2 separate regions of the Homo sapiens genome follow, and region 1 is linked to region 2. The links come from fine-mapping of genetic effects on gene expression. A gene starts in region 2. The other region holds a variant in brackets. All regions are shown on one strand. Distances are from middle to middle.

What was found. PIP is the estimated chance that this variant, and not a neighbour inherited with it, causes the effect.
Region 1: its variant is fine-mapped to the expression of PAH in prefrontal cortex (BrainSeq, PIP 0.95).

Annotation. Positions count from the first base shown.
Region 1 is chr12:102,953,883-102,962,481 of GRCh38, forward strand. ASCL1 (achaete-scute family bHLH transcription factor 1) reads left to right here and starts at 3,792. Exons shown (of 2, transcript NM_004316.4): 1 at 3,792-5,120; 2 at 5,480-6,631. The coding sequence starts at 4,363. The coding sequence ends at 5,073. It also overlaps a transcript of PAH not described here. RefSeq lists enhancers at 4,259-4,790, 4,791-5,322, 6,668-8,599 and a silencer at 4,429-4,498. The variant T/C (reference allele first, on the strand shown) is at 4,166.
Region 2 is chr12:102,913,951-102,921,950 of GRCh38, forward strand. PAH (phenylalanine hydroxylase) reads right to left here and starts at 3,294. Exons shown (of 13, transcript NM_000277.3): 1 at 3,121-3,294. The coding sequence starts at 3,180.

The DNA of each region.
Region 1 (8,599 bases), 40 kb after region 2:
CTTGCAAAGCAAATTACCCAACAACATCTGATTTAATTCTCATAACACCCTTGACATACAGGCAAAGGGAGTACTACCACCTCATTTATGAATGAAGGTATCAAACCTTCCTTTTGTGAGTTGTTTACTTCTCCCTTCATGTGAAGATAAATGGGACATTGTTCAAGTGTCTTAGCCAACTAAAGCCCTAAGGACTTGCTCAGAATCAGGCCCACTGTGTGGCAAGGGAGCCAAGAAAGCAGGGCCCAGTGGCTCTGCTGAAGCCCCTTGCATGTGGAGGCCACAGAACATCTCTATAGTCTATCTTACTTGCTACTTTTCATGTCTAAAAATCGGGTTACTATCTCCATCATCTTAATATGCCAGTATCACCACCATTTCTCAAAAATGACAGGAATGACTCACCCCTAGGTGCTGGGACAGTGAGACAGAGTGGCACTGGATCTCCATTGGCTGGAGTGATGATCACAGAGTGGTTCCAGGAAGCCAAGTGCTGAGGCTCCTCCTGCCACACACCCTTTCCTGGGTGGGTTGTGTGAGCATGACTTTCTTATTAATCCCTTTCTCTTTAGACCTGGGCTAGAGTGCTCTACATACATATCATTGAAGTCTCACAACTCTTGGAGGTAGATACTATAATTACTGGCATAGGTGAAATAGAGACCCCTAGAGTGTCTCAGGGTCACACAGCTCTCAGGTAAAGGGGCCTAGATACCAAGTCAAATCAGCCTGCTTTATCTGGAATTCCATGGGCCTAGGAGAGCAGAACATGTGGCCAGTTCTCTCAGGTCGGGAGGAGGGATTATAATCTAGGTCACACAGTCAGAGGCAGGATTCTAATTTTGGCTCCTGAGCCTCCCATCTTTTGCTTCACACTGGTGAAAACAACCAGAAAGCCAATATCAATGGAAAACTCTCTTGGTAGAATCCCCAAGGATAGAAATGCAAACCTCTAAAGAAAAATTATAGACTGTTCTACCCTAGGGTTGGAGGAGAAAGTGGAGATGACAGTGTTGAGGTGCAAACTCCAGGTTTACTTGAGTGGGGGGAGGAGAACGCCTCGGTTCTTGGAAGGCTTTGCAAAGCATGTAAGGAAGAAAACTTAGCATACTAGGGTGAGAAGAGTGAGGTCAGGCTCAGGGCTGGCATAGGGAGAATAGAGACAAATGTTCTGGCGGTTTTGGCCAGAAGGATCCCAGCAACGACTGTCCTTCCTCCTGGCCTGAGGCCAATGAGTAAGGCCACTACAAGACAAGGCTTCTTCACTACAATGCACTTCCACTCCATTTGGGCACCCATTTCATGGTGTGTGTAGGGGGGAGGAGGAGAGGAGGTTCTGTCCTCTACTTCCCTGGTATTGAGATCTCTGTGTATGCATCCTGGAAAAGGAAACACGTGCTGGCTACCAGCAAATTTTCTAAGCTGTTAGATACAAGTTTCAAAATTAGCTACTGTACATCCCTTGTGTGTAGATCAGAAAACTGAGGCCAGTAGAGGCAGAGGGACTTGTTCAAGGTTATAAGGCACCATTGTGGTAGAGCTCAGACTCGGGACCTTTGTGAAGTGAGTCCAAGTTAGTAGGGAGTTTGGGGCTCATGTTTCAGCTTAATGTAAAAGAAAACACATCTAGATGCTTCCACATTTGCGACACTCCCTCCCACCCCCAACACTCAACTATTTGGCTGAAATAGAGTGAATGGGGCATTAGGACACAGCTGGGTCATGTGGGAGGTGGGTAAGGAGTGCCTGAATAATTCCTATTTCTGCAAGTGGTCTGAGGCTTACTCTGGCTGGGAGGTGCAGGGTGCCCAGGCTGTGTTGTGACTCTGCTTTTGGGTGCTCACCTCCTATACTTCCAGAGACCTCTTAGGCCCTTTCCTTGGTCAGGGATGTGGAGAAAGGCCTGAGGTGTGAATCCCACGGGGTTCAGCCAGTCCTGTGAGGCCATCAAGCCACAGGTTACCATGGGGAGAAGGGGCTGTGTGGCTGGGAAAGGTTACAGAATTGACCTCTGTTGGCACGATTTGGTCCTATACCTCTGAAGCCTACCTATTCTGCAAAGATGAAACTGAGGTAGAGAAGAGAGGTGATTCACTTCGGGAGCCGCCCGTCATTACTGCCCACCATCATCACTATTGTTCCAGAAACACTCAGCCAGCCCACATACCAAGAGCAGCTCCCTGGGTCATCCCCTTGGCCCTTTAGAAAGATCCACCTCCACAAAGGGGAGTTCAATTAGAACCAATTATCCGGATAATTCACCACAATCATTCCTGCACCCAGATCTCGGATTATTTCTACTGGAAAATCAAATGGATGATTGCCCTCCACTTCGTTCTGCCTATGTAGACAAGACCTGAGACATGCCCCAGCCTCTCTCCGGACCAGATCCTTAAAGAGATGGGGCCTATTGCTTGGTCTGCTTTCTCCGCAGCGCCGCGTCCCCAGACGTCCTGAAGCTGGACGGGGTTCTGGCCAGAGAGCGCCAGGGCCGAAGGCCCAGGAAGGACGCCTGGGCAGGCGCTGTCCAAGCGGTCGAGCGACGGCTGCAAGCGCCTCCCCCTCCCTCTCGGCGCCAGCACGCGGCCCCGCCGGGCTCCGCTCCCAGTCGCCTGCCACCGGGCCGCCGGGCACACGCCTGGGGCGGGATGGTGGCTGCGCCAAGGCCGCCGAGGTGCCCGCGGCGGCGCCGAAGAACCAGGAATCCCCACCAGTGCCCTAAGCGCCATCACTCAACCCCCGCCCCGCATCTTTCTTCTCCGAGGGTCTGGGAGTATCCCAGAGCACTCCCTTCTTTATGATATCCGCTAAGCTGGTCCGGAAATAATCTTTATGGGGAGGGGGTGGCGGTAGGGGGCGATGGTACAGGGGGCCAGAGGTCATCCTAGGGGGACGTCCCTGCCATATACACCCACCTACAGGACGGCTCACAACCACTCCTCGGTGTCGCTTCCCCGCGGCCCCCCACACACTTGCTCAGTTATGGGGAGCACATCCTAGTTTTTAGAGCTGAATGGGACATTAGAGACCATATTCTGTGGCTGCAGACGAGGAAGCGAAGGCTCAGAGAGGATGCCACTTCGAGGAGCCACAGAGCATTGAGAGGACGCCTTGGGACTAGAACCCACGTTTTCACATAGTCCAGCACTTTTTTTCACTGTTCTGGACGGAGTCCCTCCCCCAACCATGTTTCTAAACTTCAATCGTAATTTGCTCCAATTTCTAGGGTCACCGAGGAACCCGAAGAGAATAACAGTGAGGAGAGAGAGAAAACAGGAAAAGTCGAGCCCCACTCCCTCCTCACCTCCACACCGTTCCTGTGCCATTTTTTCTGCCCAAACCCTTCCCTGCGCTTTGCTTCAAGTTCTTAGTAGAATCCAAGAGAGCTTCACCCCAAGTCTTTCCACCTATACACCTCAATTCCTAGAGCCATTTGTCCCTCCTGTGACGCCCCCCACCCCCTTCCTAAAGCCACCCCCGGCAGCAGCCCGCCCCGAGCGCGCCGCCTGTTTATTCAGCCGGGAGTCCGGCACGCGCCAGGCGCACGCACTGCAACAACAAACCCAGCTGAATGGAGAGTTTGCAAGGAGCGGGAGAAAGGAACGGGAGGGGGGGAGAGGAGAGGAGGAGGGGGAGTTTAGGGAGTGGGTGGGAGGAAGAGGTAAGAGGAGGGGGGGGAGTGGGGGCTGCAGCCGCTCGCTGCAGCAGCGGGGAGTGGGGGGCGAGGCGGGGCCAGGGCTGCGCGTGGGGCTGGGTGTCCCATTGAAAAGGCGGACGCACTCCGGCAGCCCAGCACTCTCTCACTTCTGGCCAGGGAACGTGGAAGGCGCACCGACAGGGATCCGGCCAGGGAGGGCGAGTGAAAGAAGGAAATCAGAAAGGAAGGGAGTTAACAAAATAATAAAAACAGCCTGAGCCACGGCTGGAGAGACCGAGACCCGGCGCAAGAGAGCGCAGCCTTAGTAGGAGAGGAACGCGAGACGCGGCAGAGCGCGTTCAGCACTGACTTTTGCTGCTGCTTCTGCTTTTTTTTTTCTTAGAAACAAGAAGGCGCCAGCGGCAGCCTCACACGCGAGCGCCACGCGAGGCTCCCGAAGCCAACCCGCGAAGGGAGGAGGGGAGGGAGGAGGAGGCGGCGTGCAGGGAGGAGAAAAAGCATTTTCAC[T/C]TTTTTTGCTCCCACTCTAAGAAGTCTCCCGGGGATTTTGTATATATTTTTTAACTTCCGTCAGGGCTCCCGCTTCATATTTCCTTTTCTTTCCCTCTCTGTTCCTGCACCCAAGTTCTCTCTGTGTCCCCCTCGCGGGCCCCGCACCTCGCGTCCCGGATCGCTCTGATTCCGCGACTCCTTGGCCGCCGCTGCGCATGGAAAGCTCTGCCAAGATGGAGAGCGGCGGCGCCGGCCAGCAGCCCCAGCCGCAGCCCCAGCAGCCCTTCCTGCCGCCCGCAGCCTGTTTCTTTGCCACGGCCGCAGCCGCGGCGGCCGCAGCCGCCGCAGCGGCAGCGCAGAGCGCGCAGCAGCAGCAGCAGCAGCAGCAGCAGCAGCAGCAGGCGCCGCAGCTGAGACCGGCGGCCGACGGCCAGCCCTCAGGGGGCGGTCACAAGTCAGCGCCCAAGCAAGTCAAGCGACAGCGCTCGTCTTCGCCCGAACTGATGCGCTGCAAACGCCGGCTCAACTTCAGCGGCTTTGGCTACAGCCTGCCGCAGCAGCAGCCGGCCGCCGTGGCGCGCCGCAACGAGCGCGAGCGCAACCGCGTCAAGTTGGTCAACCTGGGCTTTGCCACCCTTCGGGAGCACGTCCCCAACGGCGCGGCCAACAAGAAGATGAGTAAGGTGGAGACACTGCGCTCGGCGGTCGAGTACATCCGCGCGCTGCAGCAGCTGCTGGACGAGCATGACGCGGTGAGCGCCGCCTTCCAGGCAGGCGTCCTGTCGCCCACCATCTCCCCCAACTACTCCAACGACTTGAACTCCATGGCCGGCTCGCCGGTCTCATCCTACTCGTCGGACGAGGGCTCTTACGACCCGCTCAGCCCCGAGGAGCAGGAGCTTCTCGACTTCACCAACTGGTTCTGAGGGGCTCGGCCTGGTCAGGCCCTGGTGCGAATGGACTTTGGAAGCAGGTAGGTTGCATTTTGGGGTGGGCAGGGGGGTATTCTTGCCTTCGTCCTCCCTCTGAGTGTCTGTGGAAGTGGGGATGTCTCCAAGGAGATAAGGGGATTTTTATTTAAAGAATTTGTGAAAGTTGGTCGATTTCAAGTCCTAGTTTGTTAGTTTCAGCACTGGCCTCTGAAAATGGCCTTGCCCAGGTCTCCAAGGAGTGAAGGGTAGTAGTGAGGTGCAGAGATACTGGTGAACCGAATACTGGGACATGTTAAAAGAGATGTCTACCTGACAGACTCTTTCCCCAGACCTCCATCTCCCTCTACCACTAGCCTACACGTTCAAATTAACCTCTCCTGTTCTTTTCCTTATGTTATAGGGTGATCGCACAACCTGCATCTTTAGTGCTTTCTTGTCAGTGGCGTTGGGAGGGGGAGAAAAGGAAAAGAAAAAAAAAAGAAGAAGAAGAAGAAAAGAGAAGAAGAAAAAAACGAAAACAGTCAACCAACCCCATCGCCAACTAAGCGAGGCATGCCTGAGAGACATGGCTTTCAGAAAACGGGAAGCGCTCAGAACAGTATCTTTGCACTCCAATCATTCACGGAGATATGAAGAGCAACTGGGACCTGAGTCAATGCGCAAAATGCAGCTTGTGTGCAAAAGCAGTGGGCTCCTGGCAGAAGGGAGCAGCACACGCGTTATAGTAACTCCCATCACCTCTAACACGCACAGCTGAAAGTTCTTGCTCGGGTCCCTTCACCTCCTCGCCCTTTCTTAAAGTGCAGTTCTTAGCCCTCTAGAAACGAGTTGGTGTCTTTCGTCTCAGTAGCCCCCACCCCAATAAGCTGTAGACATTGGTTTACAGTGAAACTATGCTATTCTCAGCCCTTTGAAACTCTGCTTCTCCTCCAGGGCCCGATTCCCAAACCCCATGGCTTCCCTCACACTGTCTTTTCTACCATTTTCATTATAGAATGCTTCCAATCTTTTGTGAATTTTTTATTATAAAAAATCTATTTGTATCTATCCTAACCAGTTCGGGGATATATTAAGATATTTTTGTACATAAGAGAGAAAGAGAGAGAAAAATTTATAGAAGTTTTGTACAAATGGTTTAAAATGTGTATATCTTGATACTTTAACATGTAATGCTATTACCTCTGCATATTTTAGATGTGTAGTTCACCTTACAACTGCAATTTTCCCTATGTGGTTTTGTAAAGAACTCTCCTCATAGGTGAGATCAAGAGGCCACCAGTTGTACTTCAGCACCAATGTGTCTTACTTTATAGAAATGTTGTTAATGTATTAATGATGTTATTAAATACTGTTCAAGAAGAACAAAGTTTATGCAGCTACTGTCCAAACTCAAAGTGGCAGCCAGTTGGTTTTGATAGGTTGCCTTTTGGAGATTTCTATTACTGCCTTTTTTTTTCTTACTGTTTTATTACAAACTTACAAAAATATGTATAACCCTGTTTTATACAAACTAGTTTCGTAATAAAACTTTTTCCTTTTTTTAAAATGAAAATAATCAGCTGACTCTAAGCTTTCTTTGACTCTGATGCCCCTGGTCCAGTTTTATGAAAATGTCAAAGGGAAGAGGTGGATGGAGAAGAAAATGTTGCAAAACATGCTAAGTGGCAGAAATGACAATGATAAGTGCTATGGCCAGTCCCATCCAAATGGTTTCTTTATGATGAATGAGTGTGTGTTTGTGTGTGTGTGTGTGTGTGTGTGTATGTACATGTATATATGTTTTCTTTCTATCCTATGCTGCAAATGTACATGCCCACCAAAAAGAATAGATGGCTGCATTATCCTTTGATCAAAATTTAAAATCCCCCAAAAAAGTGAACCAGAAAGAGAGGGTCCTCCACCATTTTCCAATTCTCAACTCCATTCTGAGTTTCTCCCTGTGAAACTATGGTGGGGCTGGATGAAATAATGGAGACTAGGTCTGGGTGGGGAGGATGGTGGTTCTGGGATGGGGGTTGGAGAGGCATCCCTCTCCACATACAAGCTCCTAGTGGTGAGTATGTTTCTCTTCCCTCACTTCCAGGCATACATTTTCTACTCATTTTCTCCAATACACCTACTTGCTATATTGATTTTAAGTAAGAGGCATATATGATATGAATTCATTCCAAACGGATTGAGATTTTAATTAAAAAAACGCATTAGAAATGTGTGGTCGCTTTGAGACACTGGTCTATCTAAGCTTGTGACTCTATCCGAATAGCGTGAGCTGCGTGTAAAAGTACCCAATTACCAAGATTCAAAAAGAAATTGGTGGGTTTTTGGCTGGCTTGCTTCTTGTCAGTTAGCAAGGACGTGATTAGAATCCTACTCGGCCTCTCGCCGGCTCCTCGCTCGCCGCCTGCATTACTTGCAGATTCAGTTTGCGTGTCTCCAGCCAAGCGGAAAGCCGAGCGCAAAATGCATCTTACAAAACCCAACAAAGAACGGGTAGCCAGCACGTCTTCCAGAGTTAAAAATCTAGTCTGTGTTGGTACATCTATACCATTTAGTGGCACAGAATAATCATTTTTTAAAGCCACGATGCGCGGAGCACGCCACAGCGTCTGATGTCATTTTGCTAAATGACCCTCTATAGAATGCACATTGAGGCTTCAGTCCCTTTCAAAGAGATGAGCGTAATTAAGGAAAAAAAATCAGTAAATTCCTCATCGCCATAAATAATCGGACTTTCTGCCAGCAGTGGGCCAATTTAGAGCTTACTTGAGAGAAGTAATGCTTTTGTGATGCCTGCTTTTATTTTTATCTTCTCATTTGGAGGACCAGAGATGGGCTCCACCCCCACTCTCCATTTCTCTTTCCTTTAATTTAGCTCCTTTGCAAGATTCCAGATAAGGTATGCAAAGAAAGTGTAGCAAGTCATTTATGGCTATGAATATAACATTAGGATAATGTTTCAGCCCCCACAAAGGGGGATTTTTTTTTCCTTCTCCTGTGAGGACAGGTGTTCTTTACTCACTTCTGAATGGGAAATATCCAGTCTCGTTAAACTCGAGGCAAAGTTAGTCGTTGTTTGCCACAATGCGAAGGCAAACTCGAAAAATTCACAAAAACACACACAATTTTGCCTAAGCTAGGAAAGGGCAAAGCGAGGATTGGGCAAAATCTCATTACATCTGCTCTAATCGCTTAGCAACACAAAGCCGGGGCTTGTGCGGCGAAGGGAAGCCATTCACAGAGCTCTGACAGGCCGCATTCAGCGCGCGTTAGTCAGCTCCATAAATCACCGCTGCCCATTGGCTGCGCGGCGGGCTTTGGAGCGGCCCTGGGCTGTCAGCGAAATACAAAATGTAGACCCCAGAGGCTAGCAATAGTAGCCTCTCCCCCGTCTTAGCCCCCACCCATTTTTCTTTTCTTTCTTTCTTTCTTTCTTTCTTTCTTTCTTTCTTTCTTTCTTTCTTTCTTCCTTCCTTTCTTTCTCTTTCTTTCTTTCTTTCTTTCTTTCTTTCTTCTTTCTCTT
Region 2 (8,000 bases):
TGCAGAACAATTACTCTCTTGTAAGCAAGTTAATGAAATTAATGGAATAGATGTTACATCATCTCAATGAGAGAAGGCTGTGTTAGGAAACTCTTAGTGACTCAGAATAACAAGCCCTGCATGAATACTGATGACCCTTAGCAAAAAATTCTTTCAATTCAGAAAATTCAGATTTTTGCCAAAACATCCCATGAAACTGAGGTGTGAAGGAAAAAACAAATTTATCAGCAAGAGTGATTTTAGGGAGCTTCAAATGAAATGGAAGACTAAACTGTTAAATATCCCATTTTGATCATGATGTTATCTTTCTAAAAAACTTCATTTATTTAGAGCCTATATAAACATTTATTTAGAGCCTATAATTTCTGGGTATTATAATAAGCACTTGATTTGGATTATCTCATGTAATTTGGCAACAACCTAAGAGGTAGGTTTTATTAGGCACCAAGTGCCCCCTTTTATTGATGACAAGATTAAGGCTTAGAGAGGTTAAGGAACTTGCCTATAGTTACACAGTTAGCAGTGGAGCCAGGATCTGAACCCAGGTCATTTGATCTCTGCATACTGTCCATGAATCACAATCTCTTGCAGCCTCTATTCCTCTTCCCCCTTTTAAACCCTGCCAGAGAGGTACAGATGAGTCTCTGACTTAAGTCTTCTTCCTACTAAAGAATACTGAGCCTTCTTCTTTCCAGTTTCCTTGAAATGACAAAAGATATTCCTGTCTCTAGTTCACTTGGTAGCACTCTTTTCTCCTGTTGGCTTCCAAGAAAAGTAAGATATTTCTGATACACATCCACAGATGCCACTTTTGACTAGGGCAATTCAGACTTGAATGTACCTGGGCTTGAAGTTGAGTCACCCCCTAAACCCCACCCCACTACAGTGTGTGTTCAGCCAATCACAAGTCTGATCTCATCTTCTCCAGAAATGCCTCTGGGCATCAGGTCCTTTCTTCCCACTGCCATCACCTGAATCCATTTCTTAGTGGCCTGCATCGATCCAGCCTGACATTTTTACTCTTGTCCTTCTATTTAGAATCCCTCAAACGCTCCATCCCCATGGCTTCTTGCTGATGTTTGGCAGTTTCTGTGGTACCGAATCTCTGGAGGCCCACCTACAGGAACCTCCTTTCCAGCCAAGCTGCTTTCTTTCTTGCCTTTTTAGCTCCTCATTAGAGTATTCACCAAATTTCCCTTTCCAAGATCTCACCTTCCTTAAAGGCTCTTTTGGGTCTCAATTCTCTTAGGAAATGTTTGTTCCCCTCAGCCCAGGTGCACAATCACTTCTTTATCTATGCTTTCCACTTGGCATTTGATGCCCACATGGTATTTCATAATAATTGACTCACAGAAATTGATTTGTCCTTAGTGCTCATCTAGTTAAACTCCCTTACATTACAGATGGGGAAAACTTAGAGCCAAAGGGAGAAAATAACTCACCTGAGGCCACATAGGTAGTGGAGGCTGGTCAAGAACTCAGGCTCCTAATTATCAATTTTTCTACATAATTCCCTTTGCTATGGACATAATATGGGAATTTAGTCCTGTTTCTTGCAAAGTAAAAGATTTACTCTGGTCCAGTCACCAGACAGTTAGTCAATAGCACTCCTAACAGCCTATATTTCACCATGCTGATCCCCCTTCACTTGCTCCATTTCTCTCCATGCACTTTGTAAATCAGTGTTTCTCAATGAGTGTTCCTTGGATCTTGACTCCAAAATTACAGGTGATTCCTTCTTATAATGCAGTTCCCTGGGCTTTACCTAAACCTGTTGAATCAAGTTGTCTTAGAATCTGCCATTTCAAAACCATCCCAGGTGATTCTTAACCATAGAAAATTTTGGAACCATTGATATATATACAGCCTATTTTTTTAATTATAACTTTTCCCTAAATGTGTCTGCAAATTCACATTTACTATATAACACGACACTACTTTGTTTGTTATTAATATAATTTGTGGATTCTCAATCTTCTAAGTGCTCTATAAAGAACTTTAAACCCCTATGCTTTCCTGATGAGATCCCTGCCCCTAACCCCTTCCCACAGTTGTGGGGACCGTATTGCCAGCAGCACCAAAACTATGTGCAGGATGGAGCCAGGACCTGTTCTGGGATCACTCTGACTCTCACGCTGTTCCTCTGTACAATAAGTTCTGTCTCCTAAGAGCCATGTACTATTTTCATAAGAAATTTTTTTTTTTAAGGATTCAAATAAAAATCAGTCCTAAGTTCTGCAGTCTTTCTAGTTATATTAACGTTAACATTAACCATTCTTTTCTCTCCAGCCTCCCTGTTTTCTACTGAGAACTCTTCTCCCTAATCCTACTGATGACAGGGGCCTGCAGACTTACATTATTTCCCTGGCCTGGGCTTTATGACTGAATCTCAAGAGTCCAGGAGCAGACTTCCTCCCATGGGTAAATATGTAGGTCACATTAAAGAATGTATTCTGCAATTCTTCACCTCAAGAAAATGCCAACAAATCCCGGAGAATGGAATATACCTTGGGCATTATTTCCAAGTCACGTTTAGGGTTCTTTCACATTCCATGCCCAGGGCTAACTCTTGGTCATTTTCCTCTCTGCTTAGTTTCTGCCTCCCCTGGTCTGAGTAAGTTTCTGTCTGAATTCTCTTCATGCCTCATCTTCTTCCCAAAATGAAAGGAGGATAGTTACTCACAATTTTGCCATTTTGATACCTTGCTGAGAGCACTTTATAAATATTACAAAAGAAATCTAGAAGGATTCCACATCCCATCCCAGATCATTAGGGACCAGCCCCTTCAGTGTACAGAAGAGTAAACAGACAACAGAGAGGGACAGTAACTTGTCCAAAGACACACAGCTAATTGGTGGCAGTTCTGGAGGCCAGATCCCCAACCCCCTAAAGCAATGGTCATTCATTCCTGTGAAAGCCACCGAGGACAGATGTTCTCCTACTTAGAAACAATTGTTGAGGACATTTGTCTGTTGACTTCCTGGATATTCTCATCAGCTTCCAACGAATTCAGACTTCTTACTGAGCTTATGAAACCAGGAAGCACCAGCAGTCTTCGGATCTCTTTCTCTGGAGGCCCAAATTCCCCTAACTGAGCAGCTCAGGCTGCCGTGGCTCACCTGTCCAAAGTCAGAGAGTTTCCTGCCCAAGCCTGGGTTTTCCAGGACCGCAGTGGACATGCTGGCTCCCCGGGAGTGAGGTCTCTGGCTTTTTAGGGCCTCAGGTACAGGCAGGTTTGCAAACAGCACGTGGGGCTGAAGGTTTTAACCTCGCACTAGGGAGGAGAAGAGAGTTACAAAGGGTGTCTCTTGCGTGGTGCATCTCCGCACAGTAACGCCCCTCGTGGGCGTTGTCCTGACGCAGGAGGCCAGGGCAGCCTGCCGGATGCTCCAGGTCACCTGCCCAGGACGGGCCGGAGGGGAGGGGCTGAGGGAGGGTGTGGGGGACGCAGGAGGCACCACTTCGCTGCCCGCCCTGGGTAAAGGGAAGAAGCCAGGGAGCGACGGGCCACCCAAGCCCCGTCGATTAGACAGGTTTAGGCACTTCCGGGACTCTCAGAAGCCTGGGAAGCGAGTTCTCTGCAATTGGACTAAGCCTGCGACCGTCTGGTATAACAATTATATGAATAATCCGCCCCCCTTACCCCCAGCTGAAACAGTCAGGATTCTCATTTAGATTTTTGTTGTTGTTGTTTTCCCTTCTGTTAACCTCTAAGCACACTGCCTTGCTGTGCGCTGACTTCAGAAAACTACAGCTAGAGGGCACGTGAACGCTGAGCACAGCAGGTAAAGAGCAAATGTAAGAGCGATCTGGGTTTAAATCCAGCCTGGTGTTCTCCAGCTATTCGCACAACTGCTCCTGAAGCTCGGAAAAGAGGGTGGTAGAGCCACCTTGCTGGAAGGTTTTAAGAATAGGAATAAAGAAATGCATTAAAATTTAGTACAGTTCTTCCACATAAACACTCAGTAAATGGAAGATATTGTTTAAAAGCAAATCCACATAAATTTGACAATAATTACTGAGACCTGTACCGTGTGCTTGGTGGTGTTCTAGTCTTTGGGAATACAGCAATGAACAAAACAGACTCTGCCTCCCCAGCTATGCTGCCATTCTGGTGGGCAGAAAATAAACATATAAATAAGTTTAGGTAGGGCTAAGTCTTTTGAAGAAAGTAAAGTAGGGGGATGGTCTATGAGTGAGCTGGTGGGATTTGGCCAGTGGTCTTCAAATAGTCAGGAAGATGCCATTAACCACACTTTTAGAGAAGACTGAGGGTGAGGCATTACTGACCAGGAGGTAAAACAAAGTATAAAAGAATGCTGGAAAGCAGGTTCAGAGGTTCAGAAAGGATGTGAAAACTCAGGGGCCTCAAGCCTTGAGTGCCTGCTTAATATTTTCCCAAGAGAAAGTAATGGGCTGTAAGAAAATAAGCCAATAATAAAGGTTGCTGGAAGCCCATCCCTCTCCTCCCACTGTTCTTTGACCAAGCATCTGAAAATAAATAAACAAATAAATAAATAAATAAGTAAAATAAAACTCAGGTTTAGGATTCAAAACAAGTGGTTTAACTCTTGGTTCTACCACTGATTTGGTCAAGCCCATGCCTCAGTTTTTTTTTGTTTTTTTTTTTTGTTTTGTTTTTGTCTTTAAAATGAGAATTTTAAGGGATATTTAGGATTCCTTAAGCCTTTATGATGTGCCAGGCTGTCTACTGTCTGCTAAGAATACAGATATAACAAGTGCAATTTCTGTCCAAAAGGAACCTTTAGGGGCCTGATGAATATTTCCCATAGTAAGTTGGAAGCTCAATGTTGTTAAATATTGAAGGCGAAGATCTTGATTTCCATCCTCAGGAGAATCTGTATTCTTTATCTGACTCCGGCATTTTTCAGTGTAGTAGACATAAAACATGTTGTATTCCTCAGCCTCAGGATTTTCTTACAAACATAATTTCATCCCTTGATGCTACTTGAGGGCAATGAATGTGACAACTCCAAAAATATTACAGGCATGCAATAAAGAAAAGCAAAGAATATTATCTACTTATTTGCATGCACACTCTGTCTTAGACACTGTGCCACGCTCTCCACGTGCATGGTTTCACTTCTTCCTCTTAACAATCCCATGAACTATGCACTCCCTTTTAATAGGCAAGAAACTGAGGCCTAGGAAGTTTAAACAAATGGCCCAAATTCAATCTATGTTTCACCCAACACCAAGGCACTGCACTGGCTCTCAAATACTTTTGCTTTCCTGTTTGAAATGAGGACAACATAATTTTTAGGACAACAAAATGATAGCTTTTCTTTCTTCTCCCCATAACAGCTGAAAATGCAACTCTTTTTTCTAATGTTTAATTTTTGTGGGAACATAGTAGATGTATGCATTCATGGAGTATGTGCAATATTTTGATACAGGCATGCAATGTGTAATAATCACATCATTGAAAATGGGGCATCCATCCCCTCAAGCATTTATCTTTTGTGTTGCAAACAAGCCAATTATACTCTTTCAGGTATTTTTAAATGTATAATTAAATTATTTTGACTATATTCGCCCTGTTGTACTATCAAATACTAGGTCTTATTCATTCTTTCTATATTTTTTTGTACCTATTAACCATCTCCACCTCCCCTCCAGGCCCCTACTACCCTTCCCCACCTCTGGTAATTAGCTCTCTACTCTCTAGCTCCATGAATCAGATTGTTTTGATTTTTAGACCCCACATATGAGTGAGAATATGTGATGTTTGGCTTTCTGTGCCTGGCTTATTTCATTTGACATAATGACCTCCAGTTCTGTCCATGTTATTGCAAATAACAGGATCTCATTCTTTTTTATTGCTGAATAGTACTCCATTGTGTATTAAAGTACCACATTTTTTTAAAACCCATGTTGATGGAGACTTGGGTTGCTTCCAGATCTTGGCTATTGTGAACAGTGCTGCAACAAACATAAAAGAACAGACATCTCTTTGATATACTGATTTCCTTTCTTATAGGTATATACCCAGCAGTGGGATCACTAGATCATATAGTAGCTCTATTTTTAGTTTTTTGGGGAACTGCCAAACTGTTCTCCATAGTGGTTGTACAAAAATGGAATTTTTAATCCTATCTCACATAAAAATGCCCTAAATCTAGGTTGAGAGGAAAGCACATCATTGCTATCTGAGAGAAGAAAAACTAATCGCTTCTTTAAAAAAAATTATTCTGGCAAAAAGGAAAAATTTATTTATGCACTAAGATAAAAATAAGAGATTGCTTGTGCCATAAACTTGCAGATGATTTTTAAGCCACCTTTTTGTTCAATTTGGTTGGAATGCAATGTGCTGCTATAATGAGAGCAGTGCTGGGTGCTAAGGAAATGGAGGAAAAAAAGGCACATCTAGAAGAAGCATCCACAGTCAGTCAGTAGACCACTGAGGTATTTTTTAACACTGCACAGAGGTGGGGAACATGTCACAAGATGAGAAGTTGTGTACTTGGCAAACTTAGAGCTGACCTTTGCTGATTTGGAAGTTGAAGATTACCCAACCATTGCAGGTTTATCAGTTCTTTCTTGTTTATCTTCATGTGCAGAAGGTTGAGTTAATCATAATCCATGAGTTCATGGCACAGAAACAAAACCTACATGACCCTTCTCTTGTTTTTTTATTCATTCTCTTTTATCATAATTCCTCACTCTCACTGCCTTTCCCCAGAGGCAACTTCTCTAATATGATGTTTAGCCTTGAACTTGTAAAATACATAGAAATGTTTGTGCGTATATGTATTTTTCATGGATATGTGATGTGGCACTATAGATTTACTACAATCTATGGATGTACTATAGATTTCATAGTTTCTTTTTTCTTTCAACTGTGTTCTTAGGATCCAGCCATGCTGCTGAATATGTATCTAGTTCTTTGCTTTTCTAAATGGTTCAGAATATCCCAGTGTGTATTTGCCACACTTGACTTCTTTATTTTCCAGTTATGGACATCTAAGTCATTGCTAATTTTTCACCACCCCAAACAATACTGTGATAAATTTCCTTATCTTTCTTCCCTTATAGGCCTGGGGTAGAAATTTTCTGGGATAGAAGAGTGGTGCTATTATGAATCATAGGGAACATGCACTCTTAATTTCACAAAGTGCTGCCAGATTGCCCTTTAGAGTGGCTTGGACCAGTCTACACACCAACCAGCAGGCAAAAGAGTTCCTATTGGTGGGTATACCTAATATGTGGTATTCTCCAAAGGTCAGAATTTTTGCCAATCTGATCAGCATAAGCTGGTGTCTTGTTGTTTTTAATTTGAATTTCTCTCATAACTCATGAGTTTGAGCATCTCTTTATATACTTATACCTCTTAGATTTCCCATGCTATGAATAGTTTATCATCATATTTTCTACCCATTTTCTACTAGGATTCCTGTCTTGTAGATTTGTTGCAATAATTTCTGTTAGCTCTGTGTCCAAATATTAGCTCTGTGCCCTTCTCAGTCACTGAACACATTGCCTCCCAATGTGTCACTGTCAGTTAATTGTCAACTGGTGTCCTTCCTTGATTAAACAATAAAACAAGTAATTTTGAAATAACAAGTCCATCCTTTTAAAAATTTTTGTGGTTTGTACTATAGAGTATTGTTTAAGAAGTCCTTCCCCATCCCAAAGTTCCAAAGAGGTGCTCTTCTCTCTAGCATCTAGATCTATCATAGCTAGATCTTTAATCTACCTGCATTGTAGATATACCTGTACATGCCTTGGGGATTTCTTAGAGGCTTTTCAACATGGTCCCACAGTCCAGGTAATACCACTTAACTTAAAGAGGCCAATCCCACAATCAATTGTCTTTTGGGATTTTCTCACCATAGAGCCTATTTTAACTTTCCGCTAGATATATAGATCAAATTTTCTTTCTCTGATTTGAAAGTTATCCCTTATATTTTAATTTTTTTGCTGTATTTTTATTTTTTTGCTCCAAGTTATATAATTTTTTCCTTTTAGATATAACTTT